Regions from separate parts of the Homo sapiens genome. Here regions 1 and 2 are each reported to be linked to region 3. The links are microRNA targets in miRTarBase. Many come from high-throughput screens and were not tested one by one. Region 3 holds a microRNA gene; each other region holds the end of a gene's coding sequence.
What was found. The annotated mature microRNA hsa-miR-8061 reads CUUAGAUUAGAGGAUAUUGUU and lies in region 3 at 2,224-2,244, opposite strand. An mRNA with a match to its seed (bases 2 to 7 or 8) in the 3' UTR can be bound and repressed. Matches are read on the target gene's strand: a 7mer-m8 pairs with bases 2 to 8, a 7mer-A1 pairs with bases 2 to 7 and ends in A, and an 8mer does both.

Region 1: the mRNA of SDR9C7 is a reported target of hsa-miR-8061. Seed matches in the 3' UTR shown: 7mer-m8 at 2,363-2,369.
Region 2: the mRNA of ARL6IP6 is a reported target of hsa-miR-8061. Seed matches in the 3' UTR shown: 7mer-A1 at 1,443-1,449.

What each region holds. Positions count from the first base shown.
Region 1 is chr12:56,921,069-56,924,333 of GRCh38, forward strand. SDR9C7 (short chain dehydrogenase/reductase family 9C member 7) reads right to left here. Exons shown (of 4, transcript NM_148897.3): 4 at 2,065-2,982. The coding sequence ends at 2,765. Among named protein-coding and RNA genes, the nearest start is that of SDR9C7, 12 kb to the right of the region's middle.
Region 2 is chr2:152,759,453-152,762,717 of GRCh38, reverse strand. It overlaps ARL6IP6 (ARF like GTPase 6 interacting protein 6), which reads right to left. Exons shown (of 4, transcript NM_152522.7): 4 at 322-2,971. The coding sequence ends at 2,878. Among named protein-coding and RNA genes, the nearest start is that of ARL6IP6, 42 kb to the right of the region's middle.
Region 3 is chr19:54,644,298-54,647,562 of GRCh38, reverse strand. MIR8061 (microRNA 8061) reads right to left here and starts at 2,254; the gene lies at 2,180-2,254.

The sequences.
Region 1 (3,265 bases), not on the chromosome of region 3:
AGGCAATTCAAAACTCCAGGAAAATACAAAAGTTATATAAGAAAGGTGATGGTTCTAATATGAAATCAACCAAAATGTAACTCTGGAGCATATATGAATCTCAGCTCATAAGTTCAAAAAATACCTCAGCTATTAATGATGAGGTGGAGAGATGGCCCTCAGACCAAAAAATTAAGTCTTCTATCTTCTAAAGGTTACCACTTTAGTGTCTGCTGTTCCAGTCTACATGCCCTTTATATCTAGCAAATTTCTACTACCTTCCTGCCATGGTGGGACACATGAGTCTCCTGTGAGGTCATCTGAAGTCGAATCTGCCTAAACATACAATGTAGCTGTGACTCTCTTGAGTCTTGTCACCTCCCCATGGTGTGCCCCCAAGGTGCTCTAGAAAGTGGGCCCTGGTCCCTCCTGTCCTGGGAACCCCAAACATCAACTTCTTATCTCATCAGAGTGAATCTCTTTGTCATAGGGGAAAGTCTCTTTTTCTCTGAGTCATTTGGTACACCCATAAGTCACATTCTGTTTTACTTCTTTCCCACAACTCTATAATTTTTCTAAATATATCAGGGTTGGGGGAAACTAAAGCTGGAAAAAGTGCAGGAAATTTATGTGTTTTATCCCATCAAACATCTCACCCTAGGTAAAGAAGTACCAAATTGGCTATCTATTTGAATGGAAGAAGGGGAAATAAAAAAAAACAGGGAGGAATGAAAAAGTGTAAATTATTATCTCAAAATATTACCTAGCCAGTTTCCCCTTAGTAAATTTTTGTGTCTTCAGAAAATTTATTTTTGACCTTTGTTCAACCCTCTCAACAGCATAATGTCTGAGTTTTGCATTTTCCAAGGTAGTAGACATTGTGACTGATTTCCCAACATCCCATCTGTCCCGTGATTAATCTAAGCAATTCATGGCAATTTACCTCTTTGCCAGGGGTGGACAAGCCTAAACCAATTTGGGCCAATGAGATTCAAGGAGACACATGATGAGGGCTCTAAGAAAGAAACTTCTTCAATGTTGAATGCTGTGGAAAGGCAGGCTCTTTCTTCTTCTCTAAGTTGTGAATGAGGAAATGTAGAGTTCCCTTTGCCTGGCAGTCACACCACAGCAACAAAGGGTAAAGATAAAACTGTGGGCAGCGGAGCAAAGAAGTAGAAAGAGCCTACAGCCTCAATGCCATCATTCAGCCACTGGGCCCTGCCCTCACTCTTCATTGTCTAAGCCAGTGTGAGTTGGTTTTTCTGTTACTTGTTGAATGCATTCTATCTGATTTAGAATTTGGTGCCAGGAATAGAAGTGCTGCAAACAACAAACTGTAGTGAGTTGCACAGTAGCTCCCTAAAGATATATCTATAAGCTAACCCCTGGAACCCGTGAGTGTTACCTTATTTGGAGTCTTTGCAGATGTACCTGGATTATATTTTATTATTTTCAGATGTTGAAGAGACCCAAATTAAAGATATTTTAGTTAAAAAAATCACATTTGACCTTTATTACATGACCATTTATCAAGATAAAAAAAAAAGTCTCTTCCACAGAACTTCATATGACCCAGGAGTTTAAGTCTTTTTTTAAAAAAAATTAGTTCAATGACTTATTTGACAGTGTTACTAATTTGAGAAATTGATTTTCCTATAACTGAAAAATAATCCTGGTCTGGGAGTCTGAATGCCTCATTTCTATCCTTGTCTTAGTTACTAAACTGGGGGCTTGGGTAGGTCACTTCCCCCTCTGAGTGTTAAGTTACTTATTCTATGGAATTATTGGTGGCTCCAAGTTGCTCGGGTGCATCAGAATCATATAGGTCCTTGTTATAAACACATATTTCTGGACCTTATCTCAGTCCTACTGAATCAGATTTTCTAATATTGGCACAGGAGTCTGTATTTTTTAATTGACTGGGTGATACAAGGTACAGCCAAGCTTGTGAAGTATTGGATGAAGACCTCCAGGGTCCTTCATAGCTCTAAAAATTTGTATTCTGATTTCTATTCCTTCTATCGCTGTTTGTCCTAACTCAGCTACTAGATATTGTGCTAAAACAAAGCAAAGCAAAACACAAAATAAACAATAAAAAACCAAGACCATGATTTAATCATCTTTATATTCCCCCAGCACCTACAAAGTGCCCGGTAGGTAGTAGGCACTCAATAAATATTTGAAAAATTAATGGTGATTAAATAAATGAATGTTATTTCATGTGGATCCCAATAACCTATAGATAGAAGAATCTAAAAAGAAAGAAAATATTTTAAACTTTTGTCTGATTTAATCTTGCACTCCCTATCTGCCCTACCGCATACTTCAGTAATGGGTTATGTGAATGAAGTTATGCATATTGAGGGACCCATTAGGAAGGTGGTTAGATTCTCCTGGAGGCAAGATTATCCCACAGTATTTCTCAGTGGCAGTGATAACTGAAAGGGGCTCATGATTCCACAGGAGCTGGTTTTCTTCTCCATGACTTTTCCAGGACCAGAAAAAGCTGTATCCTGATTGGGTGACAGACGTCCTTGGAGCTATTGCTGCAGATCGCTGAACCTGCAAAGACCACCTCAGGTTTCTGTGGGGTCCCAGAGGGTGGGAAGAGGCATTCACCTTCTGTTAGAAGTTACTGGTAAATTCGACAGCAGTGGGTGTCAGCTGAGCCAAGCTTCCTTTGCAGCCAATGCCCCCAGGATAACCGATACCACCTTTTGTGACCCCACGGTCCTTCCTTCCTCCCCCACTTCTAGGCTCCACTGACCCATTGATCCTCCCCAGTTTAGACACTGTCCGCTGGCCTTGGAAGGTACCGGCTTAGGATGAAATCTGTCACAGGGGTGGGCAACTTAGCCAGAGGGATGTAGAGGAGTTTGGCATCCAGGCCAGGGTTGTAGCGGATGCGAGGGCTCCGGGAAACAATAGCATGCTCCATGCTGTTGATGACATCTCTGACTCTGGGCTCTGCCACCTGCATTATGTTTTTTAACTTGTCAGTATCTGTTTGAGGGCAGAGAGGGGAAAAAGGCTCTGTTATTCTTCATAAAAGATGGCTTCTTCCGAATTCCATCCAAGTTCCCTTTCCATCAGATCCCTGATCTAACATTTCAGGCAGGTCCGCCACACCCTCCAGGTGGTCCCTTATACAAACACACATTTATAAGACTATTATAAATAATCTTAGCCTGGCCAACATGGTGAAACCCCATCTCTACTAAAAATATAAAAATCAGCTGGGCTTGGTGGCACATGCCTGTAATCCCAGCTACTCGGGAGGCTGAGG
Region 2 (3,265 bases), not on the chromosome of region 3:
AATCATATCTTGATAACTACAGTAATATTCTTTCTGATAACACTTAAGGTGGAACTGAATTTGGGGACATAATTTCTTGATGAAACAGCAAGATTAATAATAGTTTAATTTATTCTAAAATGTCTTTTCAAGTCCCTGAGACTAATCACTAGCCACAGGAATACTTACACCCCGTTTATCTTTCACAAGTAACTAAATAGAATGCTGTAAGCTACACATAAGGAGATGAGATCATCTGAGTCAGTTTCACAATAGAGATGGATTCCAGCTGCTAGATAAGCTCATTTTGACTTGTTTTGTTGCAAATGACAAAAGCCAATGTAAACTGCAAAGGCCAAAAGACAGAAATTTATTGACTCACGTATCAAGAATGGCAGGATTGCCACTGGGCTTCAGGGACCAGGGTAACGCCATTAGCAATATCCGTTATCAGCCTTATTCTTTCCCACTGAGCCTGGCTGAACTACAGCTGCCAGCATTTCCTGGGCTTGCATTTTCCCAGCTTCGTCACATCTTAATTTCAAGCTGAAAAATCCTGGGAAGAGACATACTTCACTGAAGTCATTTCTCTATTCTACTCATTGTAGCCAGGCAAAATGAGATTAGGATTAGCTCAGCCAGAGTTAGGTGACTATCCTTGCCTAATCATTCTGCATATAGATGATTTATATTTGGACCCTGTGTCAGACTGGAGAGAGGAGGGTCATTTCCCAAAAAAGGGGAGTAACAGTCCAGAAGAATTAGGATTCCACAAAAATATCTTACGGATACATCTCTCTCTATATTTATCTATATTAATATATATCTTGTAGGTATATATAGTCATGTTTGGCTTAATGACAAGGATATATTCTGAGAAAAGCGTCATTAGGCAATTTCATCATTGTGTGAACATCAGAGTATACTTACACAAACCTAGATGGTATAGCCTACTACACACCTAGGCTATATGGTATAGCTTATTGCTCCTAGACTATAAACCTGTACTGCATGTTACTGTACTGAATATTGCAGGCAACTGTAACACAATGGTAAATATTTGTGTATCTAAACAGAGAAAAAATAAAGTAAAAAATGCAGCAGTATAATCTTACGGGGGGATTCACTATCATAAGTACAGTTCGTTGTGACCAAAACGTTGTTATATGGCACATGACTGTCTAGGGTGTACATATCTCTATCTAGGGTCTACTGTTAATAACTTTCCTAGTCATTAGACACAAACAATCTGGAGGGAGTTACTCACATTGGTGGTGCGTGGGAATACAGAGTGGTGGAGAGAAGATAAATTGATTCTGTTACTTGTGTACATCTTTGCAATGAAAGGGCTCTTTGGAGTCAAAGGGTGAAGAGTTTAAGCGTGCAGGAAGGAAGGCAGGGAGTGAAAATAGACTGATGGCAACCACCACTCTGGTAGGAATACTTAAGCCATGGGATTGATATTTAGATACACACACACACACACACATTTCAGATAATTTAAATTGGAGCAGTATTAGTCATTTCCAACCAAAGAGTTTTGAATAGTAAAAGAAATGCGAGACTTTTAGAAACCTTGTTTAGTCGGTAACAACATTCAGTAGATAATTAAGGGAACACACTGCACAAATTCATTTCCCACTTAGCCTGAATAAGCAGTTTGACTACTTAATGGTTTCTTATTGTAAGTTTTCCTATGGCCAGGGAAAACAGCTTTGTAAGTAGTCCATCTTTCTAAAACTGAGGTAACTTTCTAAACATTAAAAGTCTTTAGTAACATAGGGGAAAAATTAAGGCTTAATTACTTAGAAAACAAAATATCACAATTACAGGAGCACATTTAATTACAAAAATTATAAAATTATATTAACTATATGTAGTTTTTAATATCTAGTATCAAAATACCTTTTCTACTTTGGTAACTAAATTTTTGAGATTAAGAACAAACTAGTTCAATCATTCTCACATACAAAAATTTCATGTTTATATTTATTAAAAACAAAATAATGCAAGTTCTGTTAAAGTAACAATATATACACCAAGATAAATATTTGGAATTGTGGAAACAGAAATAGTAAAAATTTCAAATTTTTTCTCAATATCTTAATGACTTAAATAATTTAGCTTTTTTCAGGCATTTTTTGTTAAAAATAAACTTACTTAATTTTCAACTTAGGTCAATGTGCTTTTTTGCTTTTTTTAAAGACAAAAATTAGTAAAAATGGCAGGTACTAGGTTTGCACTAGCTAAAAAAATAATGTTTACAGTTGTCTAGATGTAACAATTTTAAAAACATACAAATTCAGTATGTAGTATGAAAATACATTAAAAAAACACATAAGGAACTATGCCCCATAAAAAATATAAATGCAACTTCTATTAATTATATGAATATCAAAAATTAAATATTCTGATTTAAAAGTAGCTTCTATAAAAGTCGGAGTAGTAGGCATTATTTGCTTTCCTAAATGTATAAATAAGAAGTATTTCTAGCTCAACTAAACAGAAATATCAGTATTTCTTAGCAAAAAATGTAGTACATACATGAAAAGGCAAGCATTGTCCTGTATTCAAGTTTTTGAGTTTAAATTCCATTAAAATGTTTCCTACAACTTGAAAGAACTACACACACAAAAGTAAAAAGATGAGGTAAACATCTTATACTCTGAAGAAAGTACTTAATACTCAGATATTCCCAATTAATCTGTATCTTAATACTCAGACATTCTAAAACAATGCTTTAAAAGGTCTTCCATAATGAGGATGATTGTGATAAATATCTGAACTACATAATGAACAGCAGGTTTCTCAGTCTTCTGAGTAGACAGTGATGCTCCTTCTTGTTATTACAAAACAATCATGATTAAGTTTTGCCAACAATATCGCTCCAGTGTGGGTTTACATGAGGCACCATGCTACAGTAAGAGCAGCTACGATGCCATTCAAAATCGCCATGCTATAGCCCATGTGGAAAGAATGTCCAGTCAGTTTCCTAGAAAAAAAGAAAAACACAAATCAAAAAAGAAAAATGTAACGTGGTATAACAAAGACACCAAAAGTTTTCATCGAAAATACTTATGACCTTGGAGTGTATTTCCCAAATGTTCACATATGAATACAAAACTTAAAGAATATTGGACATCTGCAGGATAAATAGTGGATAGATCTTATTAAGTCCTGTGTCAAAACTGTACTGGTTAACAATTACAGTTGTTTCAAATCATTACTGATGAGTAATGCTGAGTTTCATCCCTATTATTTCTTTACTGTGTTTCATTGTCACTGT
Region 3 (3,265 bases):
CACATAATTGTGGAATCTAAATAGTGAAATTCATAGAAGCTGAGAGTAGAATGGTGGTTAGCAGGGGCTGGAAATGGGAAAAATAAGATGTTGGTCAAAGGATACAAAGTTTCAATTCTCCGAAATGAATAATTCTGGAAAGCTAATGTATGGAATGAAAGCTATAGGTAACAATACTGTATTGTACACTTAAAATTAGCTGAGAGTAGATCCTAAGTATTTTCACTGCACACACACATGCACACAGAAATAATAACTAACTGAGGTGATTAATATATGGTATTTCTAGTTCTAGATCCCTGAGGAATCACCACATTGACTTCCACAATGGTTGAACTATATTGTGGCACTATTCACAATAGCAAACACTTGGAACCAAGCCAAATGTCCAACGATGATAGACTGGATTAAGAAAATGTGGCACATATACACCATGGAATACTATGCAGCCATAAAAAATGATGAGTTCATGTCCTTTGTAGGGACATGGATGAAATTGGAAACCATCATTCTCAGCAAACTATTGCAAGGACGAAAAACCAAACACCGCATGTTCTCACTCATAGGTGGGAATTGAACAATGAGAACACATGGACACAGGAAGGGGAACATCACACACCGGGGCCTGTTGTGGGGTGGCGGGTGGGGAGGGATAGCTTTAGGAGATATACCTAACGTTAAATGACGAGATAATGGGTGCAGCACACCAACATGGCACATGTATACATATGTAACTAACCTGCACATTGTGCACATGTACCCTAAAACTTAAAGTATAATTAAAAAACAAACAAACAAACAAAAAAAACAACTCCGAGACCTGAGCAGGCAGACACACAAGCAGCTGGACGTCCGCAGATCAGCGGAAGAAGAAGACACTGGCGGCTGAGAGGAGCACGTCAGTGCAGGAACACACAGATGGCTGGATGTCGAGAGGAACGCAAGGACGGGCACCAGCACACCACAGGCCACCGACTGGCAGAACGACATGGAGCTTGGCTGGGACAGTCAGAGAGGATCCCGGGCCGCCAGGGGCCCGACTCCAGGAGAAAACCATCGCCCTTCTGCTGAGAGCTGTTTCCACTCAATCAAACCTTGCACTCATTCTCCAAGCCCTCATGTGATCCGGTTCTTCCGGTACACCAAGGCGAGAACCCTGGGATACAGAGAGCCGTCTGTCCTTGCAGGAAGGCAGGGGTCTAATGGAGCTGATACACACAAGTTGCCTATGGAAGGCCGAAACTAAAAGAGCACCCTGTAACATGCGCCCACTGGGGCTTCAGCGGTTGTCATTTTGAATGTGGTGAATTTATTTTTATCTATTTATTTATTTTTAAGTTTCAGTAGTTTTGGGGGAACAGGTGGTGTTTGGTTGCATGCATAAGTTCTTTAGTGGTGATTTTTGAGATTTTGGAACACCCATCACCCGAGCAGTGTACACTGTACCCAATGCGTAGTCTTTTATCCCTCACCCCCTCCCATTGCTCCCCCTGGGTCCCCAGAGTCCATTATATCCTTCTTATGCCTTTACATCCTCATAGCTTAGCTCCCACTTATGAGAACATATGATGATGGTTTTCCATTCCTGAGTTATTTCACTTAGAATAGTGGTCTCCAACTGCCTCCAGGTTGCTGCGAATGCCATTATTTTGTTCCTTTTTATGACTGAAGTATTCCATGGTGTGTGTGTGTGTGTGTGTGTGTGTGTGTGTGTGTATATATATGTATATATACGCATATATACATGTTTTTTATATGTTTGTTGGCCATTTGTATATCTTCTTTAGAGAATTGTCTAAAGTCAAAAGGGGAATTGGATTTGGAGGGAACAATTTTATGGCTATTTTTCAGTATAATCATCAAGTGAAGATAGTGTCTGTTCGGCCAGTGTTACTTTAATCCATTACCTGTAGCCAGGAAGGGAGATGTTTATCACAGAGATAGGCACCAACCTGGAATGCTTTCCTCAAAAGTGATTAACTGTAGTGTGAACCCTAAATTTCACCGCAGTTTGGTCCTGATTTGGCACAAGATATGCTTTATCCACTGATGTGAAATGCCCAGGTGTTTTTTGTACGGTTTTGTTGCTGAAAGACACAATACCCTCTAATCTAAGGCATCCTCTCCAAATCCCACTGAACAATACCCTCTAATCTAAGGTGTCCTCTCCTAATCCCACTGAACAATACCTCTAATCTAAGGCGTCCTCTCCAAATCCCACTGAACAATATCCTCTAATCTAAGGCATCCTCTCCAAATCCCACTGAACAATATCCTCTAATCTAAGGCATCCTCTCCAAATCCCACTGAACAATACCCTCTAATCTAAGGCATCCTCTCCAAATCCCACTGAACAATATCCTCTAATCTAAGGCATCCTCTCCAAATCCCACTGAACAATATCCTCTAATCTAAGGCATCCTCTCCAAATCCCACTGAACAATACCCTCTAATCTAAGGCATCCTCTCCAAATCCCACTGAACAATACCCTCTAATCTAAGGCATCCTCTCCAAATCCCACTGAACAATATCCTCTAATCTAAGGCATCCTCTCCAAATCCCACTGAACAATACCCTCTAATCTAAGGCATCCTCTCCAAATCCCACTGAACAATATCCTCTAATCTAAGGCATCCTCTCCAAATCCCACTGAACAATACCCTCTAATCTAAGGCATCCTCTCCAAATCCCACTGAACAATACCTTCTAATCTAAGGCATCCTCTCCAAATCCCACTGAACAATATCCTCTAATCTAAGGCATCCTCTCCAAATCCCACTGAACAATACCCTCTAATCTAAGGCATCCTCTCCAAATCCCACTGAACAATACCCTCTAATCTAAGGCATCTTTTCCAAATCCCACTGAACAATACTCTCTAATCTAAGGCATCCTCTCCAAATCCCACTGAACAATACCCTCTAATCTAAGGCATCCTCTCCAAATCCCACTGAGGCACAGGAGCGACACTAAGGAGGGGGTCACGGAGCTTCCTGAGGGAGATTCGCCTCCTGAACCCTGGGCAGATCCTCCCCACCTTGGGATCTCTGTGAACCTCTGGGGTCTTCTATTCAATCAGGACCAAGTTGTGAGGTGGGATTCCTTCCAGGCTACAGTCTCCCCTCTCCCTCTTTCAATTTCATCAAGACAGATCAGAGGTTTGCGGGTGGAAGTCATGGCATCTCCTCCACAGCCCCTGGCTGTGCAGATGGACGAGACCACAGTTCCTGGATGGAGTAAATCTACTGGGAGCCTGGGTTCTCC